Linked DNA regions of Homo sapiens. The protein of the gene in region 1 interacts with the protein of each later gene in a biochemical or structural test. Each region holds a gene or a part of one and is shown in the gene's direction. Other genes may lie near its edges.

Region 1 (7,520 bases):
TTTTTTTTTTTTTTTTTAAAAAGAACAGATGCAACCATGAGTAGTGCTATTAGAAAGGAGAAGAGGCAGAGCACACTTCAAGAGCTTGGGGTTCCTCTGATGATGCAAGGGCAGTTGGAGGAGTTGGTTTTGTGGTCCTGGTTAGGAGGCTGAGTGTGATTTCAGACTTGGCAAGTGGGAAGGCAAAGATTCTGCAGGCAGCTCTGGGTGTCCCAAGAAAGGTCAGGGCTGGAGAGAGATAGGAGGGTTGTGGGCACTGGGGTGGGCTGAGGGAGTGGGAGTCAGAACTTGGAGCAGGTGTGTAGAAAGAGAATGGCAAGAGGAGAGCAGAGCCACCCGGAAATGTGTGGGCAAAGGATTACCCAGGTGCTGAGGCAAGAGACTGAAGGCACAAACTGTTTCAGTATAATAAAGAAAATAGAATAAGAATAGTCACAACACAAATTAGATATAGAGATGATCATGGACAATTATCAATCATTAGTATAAACACTATTAATCATTAGCTTTTAATATTACTCCTTGTTGCACTACTAATATAACCTAAGAATAACCGGCAAGTATAGGGTCAGGTGCTGAAGGAACATTGTGAGAAGTGACCTAGAAGGCAAGAGGTGAGCCCTCTGTCACACCTGCATAAGGGCCGCTTGAGGGCTCCTTGGTCAAGCGGTAATGCCAGTGTCTGGGAAGGCACCCGTTACCTAGCAGACCGTGAAAGGGAGTCTCCTTTCCTTGGAGGAGTCAGGAAACACTCTGCTCCACCAGCTTCCTGTGGGAGGCTGGATATTATCCAGGCCGGCCCGCAGTCATCCGGAGGCCTAAACCCCTCCCTGTGGGGCTGTGCTTCAATGGTCACGCTCCTTGTCCACTTTTATGTTCCTTCCATACTCCTGGTTTCTCTTTGAAGTTCATAGTAGATAGTGGTAGAAGAAACAGTGAAAGTCTTAAAGTCTTTGATCTTTCTGATAAGTGCATAGAAGAAAATGCTGACGTATGCTGCCTTCCCTCTCTGCTTTGGCTACCTAGAAGGGAAGGGCCCACTGGCCCACGATCATGTGACTTGCTTGATCTTATCAATCACTTGGACGACTCACCTTCCTTACCCTGCCCCCCTTGTTTTGTATGCAGTAAATATCAGCGTGCCCAGCCATTCTGGGCCACTACCGGTCTCCACGTCTTGGTGGTAGTGGTCCCCTGGGCCCAGCGGTTTTCTCTTTATCTCTTTGTCTTGTGTCTTTATTTCTTACAATCTCTTGTCTCCGCACATGGGGAGAACGCCCACCAAGCCCCGTAGGGCTGGATCCTACAGAAATGCCCACATTTACCTCAGGAGTGGCAGGAAGCAAAGGAGCCAGCCGAGCGGGCACAGAAAAAGAGGCAGGAGAGGTCAGGAGGGTGCTCCTGCAAATAGGCCCAGAGAGGAGCAAGCCCAAGGTACCGCTTAAGAGTTCAGTTCAAGCCCAGGCACGGTGGCTCATGCCTGTAATCCCAGCACTTTGGGAGGCTGAGGCGGGTGGATCACTGAGGTCAGGAGTTTGAGACCAGCCTGGCCAACATGGCAAAACCGTCTCTACTAAAAATATAAAAATTAGCCGGGCATGGTGGCGGGCACCTGTAATCCCAGCTACTAGGGAGGCTGAGGCTGGAGAATCACTTGAACCTGGGAGGCAGAGGTTGCAGTGAGCCAAGATCGTGTCATTGCATTCCAGCCTGGGCGACAGAGCAAGATTCCGTCTCAAATAAAAAAAAACAAAAAAAACCAAAAACAACTCAGTTTCTCAGTTTAAAGCCCCCAGCTCTGCCACGTCCTGGCTATATTCATCTCTCTGGAACTCACAGGCCTCACCTCAACATGGGGACAGTAAAGCGTCTTCTCAAAGGTTGCTGGAAGGAACTGGAAAGATGATGCATGTAAAGTAAGCTGATGGGACAATGCTCAATAGAGCCTCCTTTTTTTTTTTTTTGAGATGGAGTTTCGCTCTGTTGCCCAGGCTGGAGTGCAGGGTGATCTCGGCTCACTGCAACCTCCACCCCCTGGGTTCAAGCGATTCTCCTGCCTCAGTCTCCCAAGTAGCTGGGATTACAGGCATGTACCACTATGCTCAGCTAATTTTTGTATTTTTAGTAGAGATGGGGCTTCACCATGTTGGGCAGACTGGTCAAACTCCTGACCTCAGGTGATCCACTCACCTTAGCCTCCCAAAGTGCTGGGATTATAGGCGTGAGTCACTGTGCCGGGTCGAGCGTTGTTTTTAAAAATGGAAGGAATGGAAGCTGGGCATGGTGGCTCATGCCTGTAATCCCAGCACTTTGGGAGGCCGAGGCGGGCAGGTTGCTTTGAGCTCACGAGTTTGAGACCAGCCTGGGCAACATGGCGAAAATTTGTCTCTACTGAAAATACAAAAAAATTAGCCAGGCGTCATGGCACACAACTGTGGTTCCAGCTATTTGGGACGCTGAGGCAAGAGGATGGGTTGGGCCTGGGAGGCAGAGGTTACAGTGAGCCCAGATCGCACCATTGCACTCCAGCCCGGGCGACAGAGTGCGACTGTGTCTCAAAAAAAAAAAAAAAAAAAAAAGAGAAGGAATGAATTAGCATGAATGAGAAAGGCATGATCTGCAGTGAGTTACCGCATGGTCAAAGACAGTGGATACCAACCCACTTGCAGAGAGAAGCTCAATCAGCCCAGTGCTTTTGGCAAACTATGGCTGCCACCCCGTCATCGTCATCTGAGCTCACTGTGAGTTGCCCTTCAGGCCCTGCCTCTGACCCTGCCATCTCTGGAGAGCCCTCTTTGCAAGCCCAAGCCTGGGCTCCCCATCTCAGAACCATGTGCATACTTGTCCTGGAATTATTTTTTTGCCTGTGGCTCCTGGAGGGCAGGGGGCTATCTGGCATACACCTGCATTGCAGCAGTTGCTAAATCAATGAACAAATACCAAGTCTTTCCCGATCTAACTTCTTTTTTGTTTTTGAGACTTGTCTAGCTCTGTTGTCCAGGCTGGAGTGCAGTGGTGCAATCTCGGCTTACTGCAACCTCCACCTTCCGGGTTCAAGCAATTCTCCTGCCTCAGCCTCCTGAGTAGTTGGGATTACAGGCCTGCACCACCACGCTCGGCTGATTTTTTTGTATTTTTAGTAGAGACAGGGTTTCATCATGTTGGGCAGGCTGGTCTTGAACTCCTGACCTCAAATGATCTGCCCGCCTCAGCCTCCCAAAGTGCTGGGATTACAGGTGTGAGCCACTGCACCCGGCCCTCACGATCTACCTTAAGAGTGGTGGTAGTTGTAGTGGCAACTCCATCTGGGGGATGAGAGAAGGAGTAGGCTGCGTTTTGGGGGTGGCTTGCCAGCGAAGAGGAGAGACTATTAGCAACGAAAGGAGTGGCCAGGGTGAACGCCAAGCATTTTCCTGACTGGGGAGCTATGGGTTTGTTTAAAGGCAGGGCTGGGTGAGGGGTGAAAAGAGCGAGGAGGAGAGATGGCTGGTGCTGGACTGGAGTGAAAGGCATCTGAGGAGCCAGGAGACAGGATGGGGAGGGAGAGGAGTTAGCCTAGGACAGGACAGGATAACACTTCTTTGAAGACTGGCGGGCATGAGGAAAGGAAGGGGAGGGATTCGGGAATGACCTGGCGGTTCTCAGTCGACTGGGAGAAGATATGGAAGAGGGCCAAGCGGGGATTGGCTGCTGTTGGGATGGGGAGTGGGGCCGGGAGCGCACAAGGGAAGGTCGAGGATGGGAAAGGGGGTGTGGGGGAAGAAATACTCACAGGGGATCGGAAGGCCCCGCGGCAACTTCGGGTAAGTCTTGGTTCAGTCCTAGAGAGGAATCCGAGGGGAAAGTCTGATTGGACCCACAGCCCGCTGTGAGGACGGGGTACTGTGGGGATGCGGGAGGAGGAGCAGTTGGGAAGTAGGAGCGCCAGGGACTGGATCCATCTGGAAAGGGGGCAGACACGCTCTCAGGATCAGGGTAGAGACCCTCTAGGAAGGGGGCGTTCTGAGACGGGGGTTGTCTGGAGCACTGGATGGGAGTCTTTGGAGGTGATTTCTGGGAAGGGAGAGTCTGGGGCAGGGCTGTGAGGAGTCAGGAAAGAAACTGTGGAGTCCGTTCCTCGCCCACCTCCTGAGCCCTGGGGTCCGAGGCCCCCGGATCAGGGGGTTCAATGGCGCAAGAGGGTCCAGCGCGGGAGTCGGAGAGCGACCTCTCAGGTGCACCGGGCCAGGAACTCTGACCCGGAGTGTGAACTGGCGCACAGAAAGCTGCGCGCGCACCCAAGGAAAGCCGGCCCCGCCCCTCTCCCGAGGTGGGCGGGGACAGCGGTTGCGTGCGCAGCTTTTGTTGTGACGCCACAGGTCCCTCTGGCCACGCCGCTGCATAGCCACGCCCCCTTCCGCTTCATATTTCTCATTGACCAATGGGCTTTGATCTTTGAGGCCACGCCCCCATTCTGCGCTCCAGTATCGCCCTGGTTACGCCTCCTCTGGCTCCGTCGCACAGCTGCGCGGTGGCTGACTGACTTCCGCAGTGGTTGCCGGGATCGCGCTGATGTGGCCCCAACCCCGCCTCCCTCCCCGCCCCGCGATGTCGGAAGAAACCCGACAGAGCAAATTGGCCGCAGCGAAGAAAAAGGTAAAGTGCACCGGGTCGCGGCCCCCCGACCCAGCCCCAGCCCCACTCCGATGGCAGGACCATGGCCAGAGTCTCTGCCACTCCTGAGGCACACCGGGCTGGGCTCCCCACGGCGCGTCCGGGCTCCCTCCACCAAAGTCTTGTCAGCCAGCCCCGCCCCCTCAGCCGCCCAGCCCCCGCCCTCGCCAGTCGCCCCCGGGTGACTTTGGGCTGGTGCTCCCGGGGCTCCCCGCTCCAGACTCGGCCCTCACCTCCTGCCCCCCGAAGTCCGACCTCCCTGGGCTCTTTGGGCTGGCGTCTCCAAGGACCTAGGACCCCAGCAATTCAGCCCCTGCCCTCGCCAGTGACTTTGGGCCCGTGACTCCCGGGGCCCCCCGCTCCAGACTCGACCCTCACCTCCTGCCGCCCCAAACCGGACCTCCCGGGGTTCTTTGGTCTCGGGTCTCCAAGGACCTGGGTCCTGGCCCTGCGGTCCCCTCCCCCATCGCGGAGCGGCGACTTGGACGTCGCGCTGATGTTCCCCCTAGGAGTGGAATGTAGTGACGTCACAATCCCCCTCGGAACCGTAATTAGTTGCGCGAGACCAGTCTTTGATCTTAGGACCCAGTCCCCTAAGTGTTCTCATCCCGCTTCTGGTTCCTCTGGTCACAGCATAAATTTCCAGCTGGAAGGGGATTGGGGACTATGGGACCTAGGAGGGAGAGGTTTCAGGCTGCCTTACACCCTTAACATAGACATTGACAGTGTGAAAAGCCTACACTTCACCCGTGAACTGAAAACATTGGCAGTATCTCTGGGTGGCAATGTGAGAACGGGATTGGTTTGGTTTTCCCCCAGGCTTCTACTCTCCAGAGAGACTTTAACATTTTTTTCTGACTTCTCCACCTCATATTCGAATTCTCCATGGTTCTGGGACCAGAGTGCCCTTCAGTGGTCTCTGGAATGAGATCTGCTTATCTTCTGTGGAACAGGTCTTGGGAAACTGAACTTGACAGCTTGAATCTTCCTCATATCATCTCAACCTGGGGTACTTGGAGTGCCACAGGATAAATACGGGGCATCTTTCTGAAGCATCAGTCTCCCTTTATTCTCTTGAGAGAGAAAAAACATTAATGTACTTAGGGATGACAGTCACATAAATTTCTAAGAGTATACCAGACTTTTCTCTGAAATGAGGCTTGGGTTGTCCTCTTTCTGTTAAATTCCCAGGTTCAACAGAAAGGCTGCCTTCTGCCATGTGGATACATTGATGTAAAAGTTTGAGAGGCATTGGTGCATTTCTTAACATTACCAAACGTGTGAGGATGTATGACTCTAAACCACACAGTGTACAGTTCCTGCCGACTTAATGTTCCGGCCCACATTTTAAGATACATATTTATTTTTAGAGAGGGGGTGTCACTGTGTTGCCCAGTCTGACCTTGAACTCCTGGCCTTAAGTAATCCTCCTGCCTTAGCCTCCCAGGTAGCTGGGACTCCAGGCTTGACTTCTCCACCTCATATTTGAATTCTCCTTGGTGGAGTGGAATGTAGTGATGTCGCAGTCCCCCTCGGAACCGTAATTAGTGCGTGAAACCAGCTTTTGATCTTAGGACCCAATCCCTAAGTGTTCTCATCCCGTTTCTGGGATGAGAGGTGGAAAAGTACCTCTGCCTCTGGTTTTGGCCCCTGGCAGCTGCTGATTTGTGGCAAAACCCCAGAGCTTGGAGTCAGAAGACTGAGTTTAAGTTCAATTCTTGCCTTTTTTAAGCCATGGTATCAATCCCTCTCAGTCACTAAGTGATTGTGACAAGAACTTGTGGAGTTGTTAGTGGCATTAAATCAGATGGTATATAAGAGTATTTTGGAAAAATTGTAAAGTAGGATGTAACTGTGGGGGCTTGTAGATCTCATGAATATTATTGCTCTTCTTTTCCACAGTTGAGAGAATATCAGCAGAGGAATAGCCCTGGTGTTCCTACAGGAGCGAAAAAGAAGAAGAAAATAAAAAATGGCAGTAACCCTGAGACAACCACTTCTGGTGGTTGCCACTCACCTGAGGATGTGAGTCTTGGATGGCCAGGCTCCTGGGGACAGGGGGCCCAAGGGGCAGTAGAGGGTAATTGTTATGATTGTGGAAGAACTGTTGGGTACTGATTAAGAGTTCTGGGTTTGTATCCTACCTGTCCATCTGCTAGGGATGTGATTTAGGGCAAATTGCTTGAGCTTTTTGGGCCTCTCTTTTCACAACTATAAAGTATTGTTTTACTTACACTTGTGAAGTTTAAATGAGATTTGTTATTGTTGTTTTTATGTTAATCCCTAGTACAGGGCCTGCTGTCCTAAACACCCAGGACACCCAGGAAATGGTAGTTGCTGTTTCATTTTCCTCATCTCCAGTCTCAAAGGGAAGCCAGGCCAATGAGAACAGCTACTTGCCATCAGGCTATCCCTTTAGGAGTCACTGAAAGGGCCCCAGGGTGTGGTGAGGAGAGTCCCAGGTGCTAGGATTAGGGGAAGATCTAACTTTTGAGTTCATCTTTGCCACCAGCTTGCTGCGTGACCACAGAAAAACCACTTCTTCCCCTGGGCCTCAGTTTCCTCCTCTGTGAGGTGACATTGGATATGATCAGTGTCTTTCAAACTTGTTTTTTAGCTGGAGCCCCCTTTGTTCAAGTGAACCCTTACTCAGAAGTCTGGTTTTTAAAATGGAGGTGGAGGTTTGTAGTTCTACTAGATTCATTGCCCACATCCTGGGCCTAAGGAGAAGGGTCCAAACAGGATATTAAGAGCTGCATTGGTCAGGTGACTCCACTCTGTGTGACTGCATCGTTCAGGGGACTTTTCCATCTATTTGTTTCTGCCCCTGGCAAGGCAGCAGGTGGCCATTTGGAAGGATGGCACAG
Region 2 (7,776 bases), about 93 Mb from region 1:
CTGGAGTGCAATGGTGTGATCTCGGCTCACTGCAACCTCCACCTCCCAGGTTCAAGCAGTTCTCCTGCCTCAGAGAGGCAAGTAGCTGGGATTACAGGCATGTGCCACCATGCCTGGCTAATTTTGTATTTTTAGTAGAGGTGGGCTTTTCACCATGTTGGTCAGGCTGGTTTCGAACTCCTGACCTCAGGTGATCCACCCACCTTTGCCTCCCAAAGTTCTGGGATTACAGGCATGACCCACCGTGCCCAGCCTCTTTGTTTGTTTGTTTTTGAGATGGAGTTACGCTCTTGTTACCCAGGCTGGAGTGCAATGGTGCAATCTGAGCTCACTGCAACCTCCACCTCCCGGGTTCAAGCGATTCTCCTGCCTCAACCTCCTGAGTAGCTGGGATTACAGGCACCTGCCAGCATGCCCAACTAATTTTTGTATTTTTAGTAGAGACGGGGTTTCACCATGTTGGCCAGGCTGATCTTGAACTCCTGATCTGAGGTGATGTGCCTGCCTTGGCCTCCCAAAGTGCTGGGATTACAGGTGTGAGACACCGCACCCGGCCAGCATCATGCTTTCTTATGTCTCTGTGTTTTCGTATATTCTTTGATTTGCAAGTGTCTGGAAAACTTAAGAAATACTTTGAAATGGGTGTCTTTTTAATGGAATGTTGGGTGCTGTTAAGAATCTTTGGGAATTATTTGATTATATTAGCGGTGAGAGCCTTTGATTTCCTTTGACTAGGTTCCTATTTTACAAGTAAGCTATTTTCTAACTCGTTGGAGTTAGAAGTTAACTTCAGAATACTGACAATAAATAATACAAAAGATTTTCTGCCCATAACAGTGCAAACGATTCCTGTTCTGGGTGATGCAAATAAATTTTGTCCATTAGAGAAAAGACATTTCTAAGTCAAATCTTCATTTGAACTGGTTTTAGTATCTTACTGGTTCCCTCATTAGTTAAATAAAAAATTTGAAATATGTTCATTGTATATTTGTATAAGGCTCTGCCAGGCTCAGTGGCTCATGTCTGTAATCCCAGCACTTTAAGAGGTGGAGGCGGGTGGATTGCTTGAGCTCAGGAGTTCAAGACCAGCCTGGGTAACATGGCAAAACCCTGTCTCTACCAAAAATGCAAAAAATATCTTTAGTCCCAGCTACTCTGGAGGCTGAGGTGGGAGGATCGCTGAAGCCCGGAAGTCGAGGCTGCAGTGAGCCATGATCGCACCACTGCACTCCAGCCTGGGTAACAGAGAACCTGTCTCAAAAAATAAAAAATAAAAATACTTGCATAAGGCTCATTATTTTACCTTTTTGAAAGTTATTCTTTAACACAAACAACAGGAAGTAACCCACACTCGCTGAAGCCAAAAATGAGATTCCTATGAATGGATAGAAGGATGCATCATGATCCTGGGGAAGGAATCCTGCTGGGCCTCAGAAAGAAGTGGAACCAGCTGCTGGAAGGTCCCAAGAACCTAGGGAGCAGTCTTTTTGTGTCTAGACTTGCTTCTCTGTGTGCAACTGATTGATCTTCTTTCTCAGCAAACTGGTTTTCAATGCTGCTCAGGCCAAATGGGCAAGTAGAAGATGACTACTGCATAGCTCCCAAATTACCCTTAAGTCCAATTTAAGTCTGAGCAGAGATGTAGCTCTTTGTCTCCCAATTCCAAATTCTTAGAGAAGTAATTCTAATTGGCCTGGTTTGGCTTAATTCCCCAACCCAGACTATTTAACTGGGGGATCACACTGTGCAAACATGCAATTCCTCATTGGTTCCCCACTGGCAATGCTAGCTCTCTCCATGTCACCCTTATTTAAGCCCTTAGAACTTTATTTCTAACATTCATATTTGATCTTGTCATTCCTGCCTCTGCAATAAAGCCCTTCAGTATCTCTCCCAACTCCTTAGTAGTCATAGGCGTTTCATCACCAAACCCTGACCAGCTCTCCTCAGCTGTCTCCGTTGCCTCCCACACTTCTCAATCACATTGGTCATTTTGCCCCTCAGTTCTTTTGCACATGCCAATTCTCTCTTTACCTCCCACTCATTCTTCAAAATTCAGCTCACACCACTTCTGTGAAGCCTGAAGACAAGCTACATATCCTGACATTTATCTGCTTCCTTGACTGTGACCCCAGTCTCTAACTCTTTCAGTGAGTATGGAACCTAGAACAGAGTCTTCTATTTTTTTTTTTGAGACAGAGTCTTGCTCTGTTGCCCAGGCTGGAGTGCAATGGCGCAATCTCAGCTCACTGCAACCTCCGCCTCCCAGGTTCAAGTGATTCTCCTTCCTCAGCCTCCCGAGTAGCTGGGATTACAGGCATGCGCCACCACACCCGGCTGATTTTTGTATTTTGAGTAGAGACGGGGTTTTACCATGCTAGTGGTCTCAAACTCCTGACCTCAGGTGATCCGCCCGCCTCAGCCTCCCAAAGTGCTGGGATTACAGGCGTGAGCCACCGCGTCTAGCCTAAGAGTCTTCTCAATGGGTGATATGGTTTTGTTAGTGGTGGAAGAGGTCTGAGTTACCCCAAGTTACCTGCAGCCTATCCTTATGGGTCTGTAGCAACTTTAGTCCTTGCTTCATCAGAAGAAAGAATTCGACTGTGGGGCAGAAAGCAGAAAAAGAGACCAAGGCAAGTTCCAGAGTAGGAATGGAAGTTTATTTAAAAAGGCCTTAGAACAGGAAAGAAAGGAAGGTGCGCTTGGAAGAAACCCAAGCGGGCACGTGAAGGTTAAAGAGAGAAGGTCAAGTGCCTAACCAAGATCCTAGGACTTTTACAGGCTGGCCTCTTTCCCATGATTCTTCCCTTAGAGTGGGCTTCCCGAATGCGCAGTGCTTTCCTTCCCGTTTTCCGGTGGAGGGTGCCCCCAGGAGATCATACGTCACCATTTTTGTCTCTTAACACGCATGCCCAGAAAGTTGCTTCTCCCTGAGGCCTGCATTCAATTAGCATTTTGATGTTAACATGTGTGGACCATCAGGAAATGGCCTCTCCCTGGCCCAGCCGAATTATCCTTTTTAAAGAAGCAATGAGGTAATTATGGAACTGTCACTGGTAGAGGGTCTGACTGCAAGTTGTCCAGGTTCTTGGCGTTTTGAACAAAGAATTGGACAAAACGCCCAGCAAAGCAAAGAAAGAATGAAGGAACAAAAGAAGGAAAGCAGGGATGTATTGAAAACGAAAGCACACTCCACAGTGTGGGAGCAGCCGGAGCAGCGGCTCAAGGGCCAGGAAACAGAATCTTCTTGGGTCCAAATACCCCCTAGAAGTTACCCGCCACTTCATGCTCACCTCATGTAAATGAATTCGTAGCCTGCAATCAGTCTGATTGGTTGCAGAAAGCAGCCAAGCAGAGGCTGAAGTGAAGTTACAAAGGTCGCACACCTGTGCAAACATCTGATTGGTTGCAAGAAGCAACCAATCAGAGGCTAGGGTGAAGTTACAAAGTTATACTTCTATGCAAAGTTAGACTCGGCTGCAGTCAGTCTAATTGGTTGCAGATAGCCAATTTCCCATCTGCTGGGCAGAAAAGTTGGGTGGGGGGTTTGTTACTTAGGTGTGGAAAGTTAGGGTTTTCCTTTCAATTTAGTTCCAGGAAGTTGGCATGAACCAGTCTTAGGTTCCCTGCCTCCAGTCCCTATTCTCCTGCCTCAGAACCATCACCCAACATCCCTAGTGGGTAGCAGGGGAGAACCCTCTCCTGCCCCGCTCATGCCTAACTACCTGTAACAGTTTGGCTGTGTCCCCACCCAAAATCTCATCTTGAATTGTAATTCCCATAATCCCCCTGTGTCAAGGGCGGGAACAGGTGGAGGTAATTGGATGATGGGGCTGGTTTCCCCTGCGCCCTTCTCGTGACAGTGAGTGAGTCCCACAAGATCTGATGATTTTATAAGCGTCTGGCATTTCCCTTGCCTGCACTCACTCTGTCCTGCCACCCTGCGAAAAGGATGGCTACTTCTTTGCCTTTTGCCATGATTATAAGCTTCCTGAGGCCTCGCCAACAATGCGGAACTGTGAGTCAGACCTCTTTCCTTCATAGTATTTCTTCATAGCAGTGTCAGAACGGACTAATACAGTGGGTTTCCCATAACATTTGCAGGACTGCCTGCCCCATCCCCCTCTGGCTGTAAACAGCAGGAGTCACACACAGGCATCTTCCATGTCCCCCACACATCCGGCCCTGAAGGGCAGGGGGCGCATGGGTTCTACGTTTCATCAGGGGTTCCGAACCCTGGCTATGCACTGGAGGCCAACCCCACCTCACCCCACCCCACTCCACCCCAGTGGTTCTGAGTCGGTCCAGTGTGAGGTCAGCCCTCCTTCTGTTGTTTGGTTAGTTTCCACACTAGGTTCTACTGGGAAGCCAGCGTTGAGAACCGCCGCCTCAGGCGAAGCTGGGACTCACACCCACCGGCCCTGGAGGCCCGCGGAAGGTTTCCCTGGGTTCCAGCACCCGGGAGCCGCGCGTCGCCAGGCACCACCCCGCGGGGGCGGGCGCGGGCCGCAGAAGATTGGGCCACGGCGGAAGCCTCTCCGCTCCCTTAGCGGGAAAGCTCTGCGCGTGACTCGGCTGCGCCCATCGCTGCGGGAGCCGGGGAGGGGGCGAGCACCTTAGGCCGGGCGGACCGAACCAACGCGCCGCCCGGAGGGGCGGCCTGAGGGCAACCCAGATCGGACCATCGCGCCACGCCGACAGGGGCCGGCCTTTCCAACCCGCCCGGAGGGAGGGGCCGCCGGCGCCTCTAGCCTGCAACGCGACCCCTGGAGGGCGAGACACGCCGCCGCCGCCGCCGCCGCCGGCGCGGAAGGACGAGGCTGAGGCGAGAAACGAGGTAGGAACGCCTCTCCGGAGGCGGGCAGGGTCCCACAGACCCACTGCCCCGCGTTCCAAGGTCTCCCTTAGGGGAGGGCCTGTCTTCCCACCTATGTGCCTTCAGCGCCTGCCCTTCCCTTCAGCCCTTCCCCCTCGGCTGCACCCGCCCTCTGCGTCCGCCCCGACCCCCTGGGCAGACCTCGTCCCCAGCCCTTCTGACCCTTGGCCTTCTCCTGACCCTTCAGCTCTGCGTCCACCGGACCTTCAAACACCCAGCACCCACCGTCCCTTTGGGCGCCACCCCAGATGCATCCCCAACCGTCTCCTCAAACTGCCCCCTTGGGGACACCCTCCCCCCACAAAACGACTCGCGCCCAGTAGTCACCTTGGTACCCCAAGTCCCTGTGACGGCTTTGGGGAAGCGTGGCCGCCCGGCACCCAGGCCGGCGACTGCAGCGGGGGCCTCCCTACTGCCAGTTCCCGGCCGGGTCCTCTGCTCCCTCCACCCTTTTAGCCCCTGCCTCCCTTTATTATCCGCCCGGCGCCGGCGTTGCTTCAGTCTCTGTCTCTCTGTCATCCAGTTTTACCTGGAGAAAACCTTTGGCTTGGCAGTAACCGTCCCCTACTACTGCACTCACTTGCCGCGAAGGGCACGGTGATCCTGTTGCCCACAGTTGGCTGTGGCCCTCCAGGCCGGCCCTGCGGACACGGGGAACTGTCCTGGGGGCAAGGACGGTACACTACTCATCTTTGTATCCCCGGTCCCCAGCACGGTGCCTGGCACATGGTAGTGTTGCTGGTGGAGGGTCTTCACTACCAGTTGTCCTTTGCGTTTTGAACAAGTAATTGAGCAGCGGAGGAATGAAACGCAGGAACAAGTAGATCTGAGTCAGGCAAGGATTACCACTATGTGAACAGTGTCCGTGATAAAGAACACAGGCCTTAAAAAAAAAAAAAAGGCGGAATTTACAAAGGACAAAGGGCCTGAAACCTGTTTTTATTTATTCCTAGGTGGGTGACCTGAGCAGATTTAGTTTCCTGGGGGTTTGGGTTCCACGCGGAAGCAGGTGGTATCGCTGAGGGATGAAACAATGGCTGGAAAGCTGTAGGAGTTGATAAGGTAGAAAGTAGTTACCTAATTAGTAGTGGCATTATTGTAACTGGGGCTCAAAGTATTAGCAAATAAAAGTAGTGACTGGATTTTCTTAGCCGGCTCCTTAGATATTAAGCAGTGGTGGATGGCTTAATGGAAGGAAGAGCAGATCCAAACAGTATACCTGGTATTCTGTTAGTTATGCCCGTCCTGCTGTATGGCCAGCCACTGTTTCTCTTCTGTTTTGAGCCAGGTTAGGATCCCTCTGATTTCTGTGCTGGTATTTAAGATTCCTTTTTGAAGCCACAGTTGCCTTAACTGGAGGCTGGACATGTTCTCATTCATCCATTGCTAGTTTTGATGTATCCTTTTCCGCTTTCTGTCTCCCACCCTCTTACATGTCTTTATAAAGTCTTGGATCAGGCCAGGCACAGTGGCTCAGCCTGTAATCCCGGCACTTTGGGAGGCCCAGGTGGGCGGATCACTAGAGGTCAGAAGTTCAAGATCAGCCTGGCCAACATGGTGAAACCCCATCTCTACTAAAAATACAAAAATTACCGGGCATGGTGGTGTGCACATGTAGTCCCAGCAACTCAGGAGGCTGAAGTCCCAGCAACTCAGGAGGCTGAGGCAGGAGAACCCCTTGAACCTGGGAGGCAGATGTTGCAGTGAGCTGAGATCATGCCACTGCACTCCAGCCTGGGTGACAGAGCAATGCTCTGTCTCAAAATAAAGCCTTGGATCATAGAAACCCAGTGTGGGGAGGGGCTCCTGATCTGGATGGATTAAGCAATACAATTTTTTTTTAACAGTATCTTTTTAATGGCCTTTTCTACTTTTTCCTGTCTAGGCTTCCTGTTAAGACCTCAGTTACCCCAGAACACCCTGGGTTATTTTTCTCCTCACCTCCAATACTTCAGTGTTGCCAGATAAAACGCAGAGTGCCCAGTTAAATTTGAATTTCAAATAAACAACAGGGAGTCCTGTATTTTTACTTGCTAAATCTGGCAAGTTCATGGGAGGGCTTATGTGTTCTATTTTTCTCTCTGGGCTTATCTGCAAATTTAGGATAATAACTCACCCTTTTCTTCCTGTTACTCATACACAATGACTATGCACCCTGCTAAAAGTCACTTGACTGAAGAGATGGTTCACTTCATGTTAGGGTAAGGGCAGGCTATCTAGAAATGGTCTTGATTGATCAGTGTTGAAGTTACCCAGGAAAAAAAAAAAACACCCATTCAGACATTGGCATTTAATATAATTTTTGTCAAATGAGTCCGTCATACGAAACGAGAGCATCATTTTGAGTAGCCAGATGTCAACATTGCTCTGATAGAGCTAGGTGATGGGGTAGAAGGGAATCCTAACAACAACAAAATAACTCAGCAGAACCTGTGCTGTACCATATTTACTCTTTATGGTGGTAATATATATATATATAACATAGAATTTACCATTGTAATAATTCTTAAGTGGCATTAAATATATTCACATTATTGTACAACCATTACTGATAACAATCTCCAGAACTTTTTTTCATCTTCCCAGACTGAAACTCTGTACCAGTAAGATGCTAACTCCCCATTTCTCCCTACTCCGCCCCAGGCAACCACCATTCTACTTTCTATCTTTGAATTTGACTACTGGGGGTACCTCATATAAGTGGAATCATGCACTATTTGTCTCTTTGTGACTGGTTTATTTCGGTTAGCATAATGCCTTTTTTTGTTTTTTGGGTTTTTTTTTAACTTTTATTTTAGGTTCAGGGGTACATATGAGGGTTTGTTATATAGATAAACTCATTTCACAGGGGTTTGTTGTACAGATTATTTCATCACCCAGGTATTAAACCTGGTACCCAA
Region 3 (7,029 bases), on another chromosome or scaffold:
CTGAAGTATTTAGGGCTAAAGGTCTGCAGATTGGCGGTTTACTCTCAAACAGTTTTTTAAAAGTGTTTCAGAAAATTTATATACACAGAGAGAATGAGAAGATAACACAAGCAAATGTAAAATCTTAACAGTTGGAGTGTTATGTAAGAGAATGTTCTTGTTTTTAGGGAGTGGAGAATTCTAGAATAATAATTTCTTGTAGGCAAGAAGGGAGTGGGATCTAATACATAGATGTAAGTTTTGAGAATAAGGACAACTCTTTCATAGTAATAGGACTAGAGGTAGGATATAAGGGCACACTTGCAAGTAAATGGAAGCTTGTGGAAATTCTCTTCCATTGCCCATTTTCTGTGTTGTAGGAAGCAGGGTTTGTCAGCTGATAGTTTAAATCTAGCTAATTAGAACATTTGTATATTTATGGAATACTTATCTGCCAGCTTAAGCATTAGGAATACCAATATAAATGACATAATCTTGCACTTGAGATCTCACAATTTGAGACATAGTGCTAATTGTAATGCATCACAAAATACCCTGTAAAGGTAATATTAAAGTATTAATATTTTGTATCTAGAGGCTTTACCATACATGTCTTTGACTCACTTACTTCACTTACAGAAATCCACAAAATCGGCTGGGCACGGTGGCTCACGCCTCTAATCCCAGCACTTTGGTAGGCTGAGATGGGTGGATCACCTGAGGTCAGGAGTTTGAGACCAGCCTGGCCAACATGGTGAAACTCTGTCTCTACTAAAAATACAAAAATTATTCAGGTGTGGTGGTGGGCGCCTATAATCCCAGCTGCTCAGGAGGCTGAGGCAGGAGAATCGCTTGAACCCAGGTGTTGGAGGTTGCAGTGAGCTGAGATCGCGCCATTGCACTCCAGCCTGGGTGACAAGAGCAAAACTGTCTCAAAAAAAAGAAAACCACAAAATCTAACCTAAGGAAATGATTTGCAGTGCACAAAATATTAAGCACAGATATTTAGGGCAACAATTTTCATAGTAGTGTAAAATTGGAAAGCAACTTGCATTCTAATAGTTTGGGAATGGTTATATAAATTATAGGAGCAAATTGACAGAAATTGTTTAGCCATAAAAATTGTTTTACACAAAGATTTGAATTTTAAGGCTAAAAGCCTGTGGTCTGATATTAAGGGAAAGAGGCAAGCTATTAAGCGTTTTTTGTTTTGTTTTGTTTTTAGCTTTTTCTTTTTTTGAGACAGGTTCTGTTGCCCAGACTGGAGTGCAGTGATGTGGTGGCCTAATAATGGCCTGCTGCAGCCTCAACATTCCTGGGCTCGAGCATCCTCAAGCTATTAAGTTTGTAAAAGTAAAAAAATTACAGGATGAGCCCAGTCAAGTGAAAGCAAATCAGTAACAAAAAAAAGTCTTTAAAAAAATGTTAAGTATACACACACAGAAACACACAAATTTCAAGAGTGTGGCAGATTAATGAATTTTTAAACTAATGTGACCTGTATAACCAGTCCTTATATCAAGGAAAGTTATTTTCAGAGCTTTCTTTATAATCTTTATAATACTGCCTCATGTCTCAAAAGTAAGAAGTTTGTTTGTTTCTTTACAGGCAAGTGTCAATTGAGGAGGGAGAGAGGAAAGCCAAAGAGCTGAATGTTATGTTTATTGAAACTAGTGCAAAAGCTGGATACAATGTAAAGCAGGTAAGTTGAGTTGAGGTTACCAAATTGAAAAAATATGAAATAATTGTGTGAGTATTCTATTCTCTGGTGTATAGGTTTCCTTCCACCTGGCAAGAGCAGGCCTTACAAACTAGCAGTATATTTTCAAACAGTGAAAAATATAAATGTGGCATAGTTTTTGGAAAAAGAGAAAAGACTTGCAAACTTCAGATCGTGGATAGAACTACTGCAAAGTGGTAAATCTACCATATTGTCACTACATTCCTACTACATTGCTTTAAAGGTAAATTTTCTTTTCTTTTTTTTTTTTTTTTTCTTTTTTGAGATGGAGTTTCGCTCTTGTTGCCGAGGCTTGAATGCAATGGCGTGATCTCGGCTCACTGCAACCTCCACCTCCTGGGTTCAAGCAGCTCTCCTGCCTCAGCCTCTCGGGTAGCTGGGATTACTGGCATGCGCCACCATGCCCAGCTAATTTTGTATTTTTAGTAGAGATGGGGTTTTTTTCATGTTGGTCAGGCTGGTCTCAAACTCCTGACCTCAGGTGATCCGCCTGCCTTGGCCTCCCAAAGTGCTGGGACAGGTGTGAGCCACCATGCCCGGCCGGTAAATTTTATTTCAGAGTTTGATGCCAAGACTGAGATAAATGAAAGCAAGTATTTACTGTCAGTAATGGTGTTCCACTTCTTGTTGTAAAAGTAAATTCTGGTTACTTTATCCTTAATAAAATGCTGGTGTTTGAACAGTGTTTACAACAGGTCTTTTTGGGGGAGGGCAGGAAAATATAGGGAGATGTCACATTATCAAGCCATTTTCTACAAGATAGGTCAGCCAGAGACTCACATGCTTAACTCTTCAAGGCTGTATATCATGTAGGGTAGTGGTCCCAGATTTATAAGATTTATGGACCAATAATTTTTTTTTTTTTTTGAGATGGAGTCTTGCTCTGTCGCCCAGGCTGGAGTGCAGTGGCGCGATCTCGGCTCACTGCAAGCTTCACCTCCCAGGTTCACGCCATTCTCCTACCTCAGCCTCCCGAGTAGCTGGGACTACAGGTGCCTGCATCACGCCTGGCTAATGTCTTGTATTTTTAGTAGAGACGGGGTTTCACTGTGTTAGCCAGGATGGTCTCAATCTCCTGACCTCGTGATCTGCCTGCCTCAGCCTCCCAAAGTGCTGGGATTACAGGTGTGAGCCACCACGCCCGGCCTAGACCAATAATTTTCTTAATTGAGGGTGATCAACAGAGGGTAACAGTAACATCATTTAAATAGTTAAAGCTTTAGGAAGAAGTCTTTATATTGTTTTTATATTTTTTAATTTATTTCCCTCCATGCCTTGAATCATAATGTAAGTAATATTGAATGATCACTGATTCTTTCCTCATTAACATATTGTTTCATGGTCATGGTTTGATACCTGTGCTCATGCTTTTGTTTCCTTTGCTTAGAATGTTCATTTTTTTTCCCTTTCCTAATTGTACTCCTTATAAGTTTCAGTTTAGATGTCAGCTCCTCAGCAACATTTTCTCTGACATTTCCCATCCTACCTCCTGTCTGTGACACCTGATTCTCTTATGTGTTTTCACCGACCTGATCTCAGCAAAAACAGTATCATTACTTACCATAGTATATTGAAAATCTCTCTCTCTCTCTCTCTCTCTCTCTCTCTCTCTCATCGGAATTATATATTCCCAGAACCTAGCAATGTGTATGGAACGTAGTAAGTGATACGTAACTGAACCCATAGGAGCCACAGACAGTTAAATAATTTGTGTAATACCATTATATTAGCCATATGCCACTATTCTAAGACAAAGCAGTGGGTAGCTTCATCTGGCTTTCTCTTTTCTATTTCTTATATATATTTTCTCTTATATTTATTTATTTTTTTATTTGAGACAGGGTCTTGCTGTGTCAGCCAGGCTGAGTGCAGTGGTGCAATCTCGGCTCACTGCAACCTCTGCCTCCAGGGTTCAAGTGATTGTCATGCCTCACACTCCCCAGTAGCTGGGATTACAGGTGTGCAGCACCATTCCCGGCTAATTTTTGTACTTTTAGTAAAGACAGGGTTTCACCTTGTTGGCCAGGCTTGACTCAAACTCCTGGCCTTAAGTGATCTGCCTGCCTCTGTCTCCCAGAGTGCTGGAATTACAGGTGTGAGCCACCACACCCAGCTGGCTTTCTCTTTTAGAGACATTTTGATAAGGGTGTGAGCTAGTTGCTTATATATCCTGGTACAGGCTGTCCTTTTCCTGGTTAATAGCTAAAGAAGGCATTGCTGTAGTCCCCTAGCCCTGACCCTAAGTAGTCTCATAGGTTTAGAAACTCTAGAATTATCAGATAGCATACAGTAAGCACCACTGATGTCTAGTATCTTCATAATGTTTGATTGCTTCCAATTTTATTTTTATTATTTTTGTTATTTATTTATTTATTATTTATTTTCGAGATGGAGTCTCGCTCTGTCATCGAGGCTGGAGTGCAGTGGCGTGATCTCGGCTCACTGCAAGCTCCGCCTCCCAGGTTCACGCCATTCTCCTGCCTCAGCCTCCCGAGCAGCTGGGACTACAGGCGCCCACCACCACGCCTGGCTAATTTTTTGTATTTTTAGTAGATAGGGGGTTTCACCGTGTTCACCAGGATGGTCTCGATCTCCTGACCTCGTGATCTGCCCACCTCGGCCTCCCAAAGTGCTGGGATTACAGGTGTGAGCCACTGCACCCAGACTATTTTTATTTTTTATTTATTTATTTTTTTTGAGATGGAGTCTCACTCTGTCGCCAGGCTGGAGTGCAGTGGCACGATCTCAGCTCACTGCAACCTCTGCCTCCTGGGTTGAAGTGATTCTCCTGCCGCAGCCTCCCGAGTAGCTGGGACTACAGTCGAGCGCCACCATGCCCAGCTAATTTTTTTGTATTTTTAGTAGAGACGGAGTTTCACTATGTTGGTCAGGATGGTCTCGATCTCCTGACCTCGTGATCTGCCTGCCTCGGTCTCCCAAATTGCTGGAATTACAGGTGTGAGCCACCATGCCTGGCCCTTCTTATTTTTATTTTTTTGAGTTGTGGTCTTGCTCTGTTGCCCAGGCTGGAGTGCAGTGGCATGATCACAGCTCATTGCAGCCTTGACCTCTCAGGCTCAAGTGATTCTCCCACCTCAGCCTCCAGAATAGCTGGGACTACAGGCACACACCACCATGCCCAGCTAATTTTTAATTTTTTTCCAGAGAATAGGTTCTTGCCATGTTGCCCAGGCTAGTCTTGAACTCCTAGACTCAGGTGATCCTCCCAACTTGGCCTCGAAGATTTCGAGATTATAGGTATGAGCCCCTCTGCCTGGTCGATTTTTAGTAAATTTATAGCATTGTACAACTATTACCATAATCTGATGTTAGAAATTTTTTTTTTTTTTTTGAGATGGAGTCTCCCTCTGTTGCCCAGGCTGGAGTGCAGTGGCACCACCTCGGCTCACTGCAACCTTGCCTCCCGGGTTCAAGCAGTTCTCCTGCCTCAGCCTCCCAAATAGCTGGGACTACAGGCGCATGCCACCACGCCCAGCCAATTTTTGTATTTTTATATGATCCTGACCTCAAGATCCATCCATCTCGGCCTCCCAAAGTGCTGGGTATACAGGCGTGAGCCACGGCGCCCAGCCCTTCTTACTTTTAATTTAGATTGTTTTTGTTTTTGTTTTGGGTTTTTTTTAGACAGTCTTGCTCTGTTGCCCAGGCTGGAGTGAGTGGCACAATCTTGGCTCACTGCAACCTCCGCCTCCCTGGTTCAAGTGATTCTCATGCCTCAGCCTCCTGCCTAGCTGGGATTATAAGTGCATGCCACTGTGTCTAGCTAATTTTTATATTTTTTGTAGAGACAGGGTTTTGCCACGTTGGCCAGGCTGGTCTGAAACTCCTGGCCTTAGGTGATACGCCCACCTCAGCCTTTCAAAGTGCTGAGATTACAGGCGTGAGCCACTGTATCTGGCCAGAAATTTTTTAATTGTCAGTTTATTCTGCCTCCCCACTAAACAACAAACTCCATAAATGTTCATTGAATGAATGATAATATACTTTATTTTTTTTTAGCAGATTCTTAGAGCTGCATTGTTTTGCCATAAAAATAAGATTTATTTCATGTCCTTGGTTCTGTCTTAAGAATTTTCTTAGCTAGACTGAACAAGCCCTAGAGAAGCCAGGTTACTTGGAGAATTGCCCTTCATTTGCTGTTTTGACTACACCTTAGACATAGATACATGTTCATCTTCCGTTTCTTTGCATTCACCTGAACCCATGTTGAATTTTTTTTTTCCAATTTTTTTTAATTAGGCCAGGCATGGTTGCTCATGCCTATAATCCCAGCACTTTCGGAGGCTGAGGCAGGCGGATCACTTGAGGTCAGGAGTTCTACTAAAAAATTAAAAAATTAGCTGGATGTGGTCTCATACACCTGTAATCCCAGCTACTCGGGAGTCTGAGGCAAGAGAATCACTTGAACCCAGGAGGCGGAGATTGCAGTGAGCCAAAATCACACCACTGCACTCCAGCCTGGGTGACAGAGCGAGACTCTGTCTCAAGAAAAAAAAAAATAATAATATATATAAAATTGAGATAAACATTTATGTACAGTGAAATGTATACATCTTAAATTGACTATTAGATGAGTTTTGGTAAATGTATTTACAGGTATAATGACCACAGCAATGAAGATATGGAAATATGTTGTTAATTTCCCAATGTTTAGGGACATTTCTAGATAATCTTAATTGTTACTGGCTTCTAATTTAATTCTGTTATAGTCAGAGAATACACTCTGTAATATTTCAGTCATTTGTAATTTATTGAGACAAGTTTTATGGCCTATCATATGGTCTATCTTATTGAATGTTCTTATATGTACTGGAAAAAGAATTTTTTTTACAGTTATCAGGTATACTAGTTAACATGTTTGACAGCATTCTCAAACCTTATATAGCCTGGCTGGGCACAGCGGCTCATGCCCATAATCCCAGCACTTCAGGAGGTGGATGTGGGAGGATCACTTGAGGCCAGGAGTTCAAAACCATCCTGGTCAACATAGTGAAACCCTGTCTCTACAAAAGTAGAAAAATTTTTTTGAAAATTAGCTGAGCATGGTGGCATGCACCTGTAGTTCCAGCTACTCAGGAGACTGAGGCAGAGGATTGCTTGAGCCCAGGAGTTCAAGGCTGCAGTGAGGCATGATTGCGCCACTGCATTCCAGCCTAAGCAACAGAACAAGACTGTCTCAATAAACAAAAAAACACCTTATATATCCTTACTAGTTTTTTGTCCAGTTCTGTCGATAACTGAGAAGGGGATATTGAAACCTATAACAACAACGATGTATTGTTCGCTTT
Region 4 (7,029 bases), on another chromosome or scaffold:
AATAGTGTTTCTGATTTAATAAATCTGGGATTAGGTCCAGGGATCAGTAACTAGTATAAGCCCACCAGGTGATTCTAATGTATAGCTGATTAAGAATGACCGCTGTAATCTTTCAGTTTCCTCTTCTGCAAAATGAAGATAGTAATAACATTTGAGAACTAAATGATATAATAAATGAAAAATTTAAGTTGTGCCTGGAAAATGGCAAGAGCTCCACTGCTTTTAAATAGTATTATCCTACGGTGCTTGTGAAGATTTTTTAAAAGGATTTTATTTTCTCATATTCAGTTGACAGAATTGGAATTAAAATTACTGTAATTCTTAATCATAGATCACCAGACCATGCAGTTTAGTCAAGGCTGTGCTGTTTTTTCTCCCAGAAATCTGGAAAATACTATCAGTTCACTATTTTTATCAGTATACCATTCTGCAAAGATGAAATGTGATTGCAAAAGTGCTGCCAAAGTAATTGAATGAAGAAAATTACATATTTGAATCTTCTACTTCAAAAATGAAAAACTGAAGTTTCCCGTTGGCTTTTAAAATGTTATGTCTGTCTAACAGGAAAAGACAATCAGCATCAAGGTTCTTACAGTGAGGGGGCTCAGATGAATGGCATTCAGCCAGAAGAAATTGGTAGATTGCGAGAAGAGATAGAAGAATTAAAACGTAATCAGGAACTTTTACAAAGCCAGCTGACTGAAAAGGACTCTATGATTGAAAATATGGTAAAGTAAATGTTTAAGAAGTTAAAATAAGAGTTCAAGAGTGGTTCTCATTATCCTGCCTTTTTTTTTTTTCCTTGGATCTCTTAAGCCAGAATATCATATGTTAAGATTTTACAGGATGGGCCAGGCACAGTGGCTTACGCCTGTAATCCTAGCACTTTGGGAGGCTGAGGTGGGCGGATCACCTGAGGTCAGGAGTTCAAGACTAGCCTGGCCAATATGGCGAAACCCTGTCTCTACTAAAAATACAAAAATTAGCCGGGCATGGTGGCAGGCACCTGTAGTCCCAGCTACGCAGGAGGCTGAGGCAGGAGAATCTCTTAAACCCAGGAGGTAGAGGTTGCAGTGAGCCGAGATCACCCCACTTCACCTCATTGCCTGTGCGACAGAGGGAGACTTTCCATCTAAAAAAAAAAAAAAAAAGATTTTACAGGATGAGCTTTAGAGTCAAACTGTTTAAACTTCAATGCTTCCTGGCTCATTGAATTTAAGCAATTTAGTTAACCTCTTTAAACTTGTTTCCTGATCTATAAAATGGTAGTGGTAATGTCTAGTTCATTGTTGTGAGATTTAATTTACTCTTCTAATAGATGGAAATTATTTAATAAATGTTTGCTTTTATGCTCTTTCTCCATATGAACGCAGGTAAATGCTTAGATTTAATAAATTGCTCGGTAAAATAAAAATTTTATTTTTTTTTCTTTAGAGACAGAGTCTCGCTCTGTTAGCCCAGTCTGGAGCGCAGTGGCACAATCTCGGCTCACTGCAACCTCCACCTCCCAGGTTCTAGCAGTTCTCCTGCCTCAGCCTCCCGAGTAGCTGGGATTATAGGTGCACGCTGCCACGTCCGGCTAATTTTTTGTATTTTAGTAGAGATAGGGTTTCACCGTGTTGCCCAAGCTGATCTTGCATTCCTGAGCTCAAGCAATCCACTGGCCTTGGCCTCCCAAGGATTACAGGCATGAGCCACCGCACCCAGCCTACAAATGGATTTTTAGCCATGAAAAAGTTGTAGACAATATGTGCTGTGTTGGAATTTTATCTTGGGCATAAAAATTAAAAGGTTGGTGTGAATTTTTTGGTAAGCACATATGATATAGTTTATATGTGTACAGTTCTGTTTTTTTTTCTCATCTCTTTAGACTGAATATATTTTATAGTTTATTTTTGTGCTATTTGCAGAAATCTTCCCAAACATCTGGCACAAATGAACAGTCTTCAGCAATAGTTTCAGCTAGAGATTCTGAACAAGTTGCAGAATTAAAACAGGTAATTTTCCACTTTGATCCAATTCTACTTTGTCATGTTTTAATTATAATAGAATAACAGCCCTATAGTTTCACAAATCTAGAACTATATTAGCAGATGTAAGTAAAATTTAAGTTAAGACAGCCATTTGAAAATCCAGAAGCTGTTTCTATTTATATGGTAATAGTACTTTGCTTTTTATTGTGTTTTTATTTTTCAGAGGTATTCCTTTTAAAAAATCTCAGCATCTCACCCATGTTATTTATAGATTATCAGTGAACTAACAAGGAAAAATTTAAATTTATAACTTGCAAATATGAAAATGTAAAATCTTATGCCTAATTTTAATATACTATGATAATTGCTTGACTAAATGTATGGGGTTTTTAAACTGTTTTGTCTAGAAAATATAGAATTTTAGAATTGGAAAAGAGAAGAAAGGTAAACTTACCTATATCTCAATTAAATGACTCCAGCTAAAAAGCAAAATAAACTTTTTCTGTGGTAATTTATAACATCTAGAAAAGCAAGTTAAACTTTTTTCTACTTGCTTATAGTATTTATAAATTCCTGTTAAACTAGATCATACAGATTTACCTTTATCCAATGAAAAAATTTAAATGTATTGTTCAAGAAAAGAATCAAAAGAGAGAAATGAACTCTGTATACTTACAATTAAATAATGTAGCAATTGGAAGAAAACTCTAGAGTATATTATCCCTAAACAGGTTCTGGGGTTGTTTTTCTTTCCTCCTCTCTTTTCTTCTCTCTCTTTTCTTCTTTCCCTCCTTTCTTTCTTATTATAAAAGAAATGCATACTTTTTTTTTTTTAATCCAAGCAATACTAAAAAATGACCATCCTCACTAACCTAGGACTAACTGTCTTCCTTCTCTCTCCACTAAGCAACTGGCCCTAGTCCACTGACATGGCTGCTTTGAAAGAGAAATGACTGAACATAGAGAAATTTTGTCTTATTTTGATAATGTCCATGTACCTCAGAGTAGATTCTAAATATCTGACCTCTTTTTAAAAAAAGAATCACTTATCATTTGAGGATTTTCAGGTCTCCAATATTTGTTCACAATGTTTTATTTGTGTGGGAAGATTAATATGCTCTTTTGGTTTTATTAAGTGTACCTATACTAGAACTGTATTAAAATTAAAGGGAATTAAGTTACTAATATATAGCCTTAGTTTGTAAATTCTAAGTAAAAATAAGCCATTTAATTATCTTTCCCAGTGAAACTTTAATTAGATATTTTTATAAAAAGAGAATTGCCTTTTAGTTTTTTTACTTTCTCCAGTTTATTTACTTTTATAAACTTTAGATTGTTAAAATATATGTATTTTTTAAGTGACAGTTTTGTTTTTTATAATATATAGTAAAGTACTATATATAGAAAACTGTAACTCATTTTAATAACTAAACAAAATAAATTAGAAAAGCCACAAATGTACATGATAGAAATTTTAAAGAGAACCAAAAGAAAAGAGCCTTTTACTTGCCATTGTCCCACCACTTACTCAGTGTCTCCAGACATTACCAAATGTCCTCGGGGATGGGGGGATATGGGGAGAAATCACTCCTGCTGAGAGCCATTGTTATAATTGCCTTTCTTTTCCTGTACTTTTTTTGGGGGAGGAGAAGGTGAGAAGTTTGGAAATTCAACATTAATAAAAACTTTCAATTAATACCCTGGTTTTCATTATAGTACTACTGCTTTCATCTGTGTTTGGTGGTCCCTAGTCTAAAGATGTCCTGTTTTGCCCAGCCACATAATAAACCTCAAGTCTTCATCCAGGAAAGGAGGAACGGTTGCCTGATGCCTAAGATTGAGACAGGGATCTGATGATCTATTTCTTAAATAGTCTTTTAACCAGGCCTGCAGTTTTTAACCTCATTTTTATCTGTACTTCCAGTGGTATCTAATGATACCAGTTCCTAACCTTTCTGGTAGTTAATGCATTCATTGTAAGTCAGGTACTATCTTAACTTTCTCAGTGGTCATCCTAGCTTTCAGCTTTCTCAGGTGTGCTGATTTAGTTATCACTGTTACTTGCTTTCTCAAAATTCCCCAATTATATTGCTCTCTTCTCTTACTGTTCTTGTTTTTGTAGGTTTCTTCCTCTCTCCCTCCCATCCTTCCTTTCTTTCTTCCTTCTCCCCTCCCTTCCTGTCTTTTATGATTTTTTTTTTTTGCATGGGATTTCAGGAGGGAGCAGAGGTAAATGAATGTGTTGAATTTTCCATCTTGAACCCAAAATTCAAGAATAGTTCTTTAGAGTTAGATTTTAAAAGTAGGAGGTTGTAAATCATTTTTTTAAATGTCTCCCTGTAAATATTTCCTTGATGAATTTAATACCATTTAATGTTATGACTCAACTATTTTTGTCTCTTAGGAACTGGCAACTTTAAAGTCTCAGTTAAACTCACAATCTGTGGAGATCACCAAACTACAGACAGAAAAGCAGGAACTGTTACAGAAAACAGAAGCGTTTGTAAGTATTTTCTCTTTTTTCTCTGGAAGGTAATAAAGACAAGGTTGATGTATTATTTCTTAGCCACAATTAAAAAGAAACAAATTCATCAGATAGCACCTTCTCTTTAGATTACTTACTAGCCGGTATTCTAGTAACATAGGCTTCATGTTCATGGTGACAGTCGTTTTATAGTCAGTCTCACCAGATTAGTTTATTCAGTTACTTAATAGTTTATTTTGCTGGTATTACATTCTATTTCTGTCCCTTCAGTCCAAGCTGGCAGTTTTTCTGCTGTCATAAAATATTCAGAAACCGTTGTTGTTTTCTCCAGAACATTCCTTCTCATACTTTTGCAATATAGGTAGACTGAGAATTTTCCAAATCTTCTAATTCTGATTCTTTTTTGCTTAGCAATTTCTTCTTCAATTTATCTCTCTTCTCTCACATTTAACTTTAAGCAACAAGGAGAAACCAGGCTGCACTCCAACACTTTGCTTAGAAACCTCAGTAAAATATCCAAATTCATTATTTACAAGTTCTGCTGTCCACAAAACACTGCAACACTATTTGGCCAAGTTATTTGCCACTTTATAACAAGGATTGCCTTTCCTCCGATTCCCAGTAACATGTTCCTAGTTTTCATCTGAGACCTCACCAAAAGCACCTTTAACATTCATATTTCTGCCAGCATTCTTCTTCTCACTATGACCATGAAGCTTCTTTCCAACTCCGCTCTTTTCTTTCTGAGCTCTCACCAGAATCACTTAATGTCCATATCTCTAGCAACAGTCTCATCAAGGTAATGCAGGCTTTGTCTACCATGCACCTCTCTTACAGCCTCTACTCATTACACAGTTCCAAAGCTACTTCCACATTTTTAGATATTTGTTGTGTCACTACCCGACTTCCTAGTATTTTAGAAAAAAGACAAGGAAAGACTGAAAAACTGTTATTCAGGAGTGTCTCCTCTAGCACTTGAGAAAAGATTTGCATTTCACTAATAATGATATTTGGCTCAATTTATCTACCTATCTAGGGTGGTAGTATGGACTTATAGGAAATTTATGAAGGAAAGGCTTTGAAAAATATTCTGTGTTTATTAAATGCTGGGTTACAGTTACATTAGAGCTGCCTTGCTGATTACTTTTCTGGGCTTACCTACCTTGAGGCACCTTAGCCCAGCCTTCCTCGTACTCTTATGAGATTTGATGCTCTTCCATGTGGGAACAGCTCATCTGACAGTGGAGAGCACTTTGTTGCACATAAATACATAAGGAATTATATTTTCTGTTAGTGAAAGTAAAATATCAAAATGGCAAAAAAATTAAATAACCCTTTGGGAGTTCATATTGATTGTAATGTTTAAGAGACATCTTTTTTTCCAATTTCTAATTTCAGGCAAAATCAGTTGAGGTACAAGGAGAGACCGAGACTATAATAGCCACCAAAACTACTGATGTAGAAGGAAGACTGTCAGCATTATTACAAGAGACCAAAGAGTTAAAGGTTTGTTTTTGGTGCAACTTTTATTTACTGCATATGATATGAAATGAACTCTAGGAAATTTTATATATCTTTCAAATTCTTAGATTTATGAAGAAAGCTAATGATGTGTAATTTTATCTCACAACATTTTCACTCCTATATTGATGATTTAAGATGGCACAAATGAAAATTTTTTTTGTTTTGGGTTTTTTTGTTTTGTTTTGTTTTTTTGAGATGGAGTTTCGCTCTGTCACCAGACTGGAGTACAGTGGCGCGATCTCGGCTCACCACAACCTCTGCCTCCCAGGTTCAAGCAATTCTCCCGCCTCAACCTACTGAGTAGCTGGGACTACAGGCGTGCACCACCACACCCAGCTAATTTTTGTATTTTTAGTACAGACAGGGTTTCACCACGTTGGCCAGGATGGTCTCCATCTCTTGACCTCGTGATCCACCTGCCTTGGCCTCCCAAAGTGCTGGAATGCTGGAATTACAGGTGTGAGCTGCCGCACCCAGCCACAAATGAAGCTTTTAAAATACTATTTCAAATAATGATAATATGTAAGATAAGCATACATATGCATGTACTATAAAAGTAAAATTTATTGAAAATATTTTTGTTTTCTTTCTTTCTTTTTCTTTTTTTTTTTGAGAGAGAGTCTCAATTTTGTGTTCCAGGCTGGATGGAGTGCAGTGGCATGATCTCAGCTCACTGCAGCCTCCACCTCCCAGATTCAAGCGATTCTCCTGCCTCAGCCTCCTGAGTAGCTGGGATTTCAGGCACCTGCCAACATGCTCAGCTAATTTTTGTACTTTTAGTAGAGACGAGGATTCGCCATGTTGGCCAGGCTGGTCTCAAACTCCTGACCTCAGGTGATCTGCCCGCATTGGCCCCCCCCAAAGTGCTGGGATTACAGGCGTGAGCCACCACACCCGGCCTGTGTTTTCTTTTTAAGATCAACATCTAATCACAATAACAAAACAAGGAGTACAAATTTAGCTAATACACAAGCCACATGTAGGCTTTCCATAAGCCGTGGAACATAGGCACATTAAATCCTGTCAGCATATTATTGTGTGACAGAG

Evidence for each region.
Region 2: the proteins of GOLGA2 (region 1) and RUSC2 form a complex in vitro, tested with the Homo sapiens proteins (one study listed by BioGRID).
Region 3: the proteins of GOLGA2 (region 1) and RAB6A form a complex in vitro, tested with the Homo sapiens proteins (one study listed by BioGRID).
Region 4: the proteins of GOLGA2 (region 1) and USO1 form a complex in vitro, tested with the Homo sapiens proteins (2 studies listed by BioGRID).

Annotation. Positions count from the first base shown.
Region 1 is NC_000009.12:128,273,008-128,280,527, reverse strand, and holds the start of GOLGA2 (golgin subfamily A member 2), read left to right. Parts: upstream 1-4,520; 5' UTR 4,521-4,551; coding exon 4,552-4,635; intron 4,636-5,031; coding exon of another isoform or gene 5,032-5,120; exon of another isoform or gene 5,121-5,172; intron 5,173-6,555; coding exon 6,556-6,678; intron 6,679-7,520. Other genes in the region: DNA repair protein SWI5 homolog, read right to left, coding at 3,773-3,941, 5,032-5,120. UniProt on the Homo sapiens protein: Peripheral membrane component of the cis-Golgi stack that acts as a membrane skeleton that maintains the structure of the Golgi apparatus, and as a vesicle thether that facilitates vesicle fusion to the Golgi membrane.
Region 2 is NC_000009.12:35,485,336-35,493,111, forward strand, and holds the start of RUSC2 (AP-4 complex accessory subunit RUSC2), read left to right. Parts: upstream 1-4,775; 5' UTR 4,776-4,837; intron 4,838-5,783; exon of another isoform or gene 5,784-5,921; intron 5,922-6,095; exon of another isoform or gene 6,096-6,292; intron 6,293-7,776. UniProt on the Homo sapiens protein: Associates with the adapter-like complex 4 (AP-4) and may therefore play a role in vesicular trafficking of proteins at the trans-Golgi network.
Region 3 is NC_000011.10:73,702,072-73,709,100, reverse strand, and holds part of RAB6A (ras-related protein Rab-6A), read left to right. Parts: intron 1-1,587; coding exon 1,588-1,681; intron 1,682-7,029. UniProt on the Homo sapiens protein: The small GTPases Rab are key regulators of intracellular membrane trafficking, from the formation of transport vesicles to their fusion with membranes.
Region 4 is NC_000004.12:75,804,576-75,811,604, forward strand, and holds part of USO1 (general vesicular transport factor p115), read left to right. Parts: intron 1-564; coding exon 565-728; intron 729-1,910; coding exon 1,911-1,997; intron 1,998-4,377; coding exon 4,378-4,476; intron 4,477-5,856; coding exon 5,857-5,964; intron 5,965-7,029. UniProt on the Homo sapiens protein: General vesicular transport factor required for intercisternal transport in the Golgi stack; it is required for transcytotic fusion and/or subsequent binding of the vesicles to the target membrane.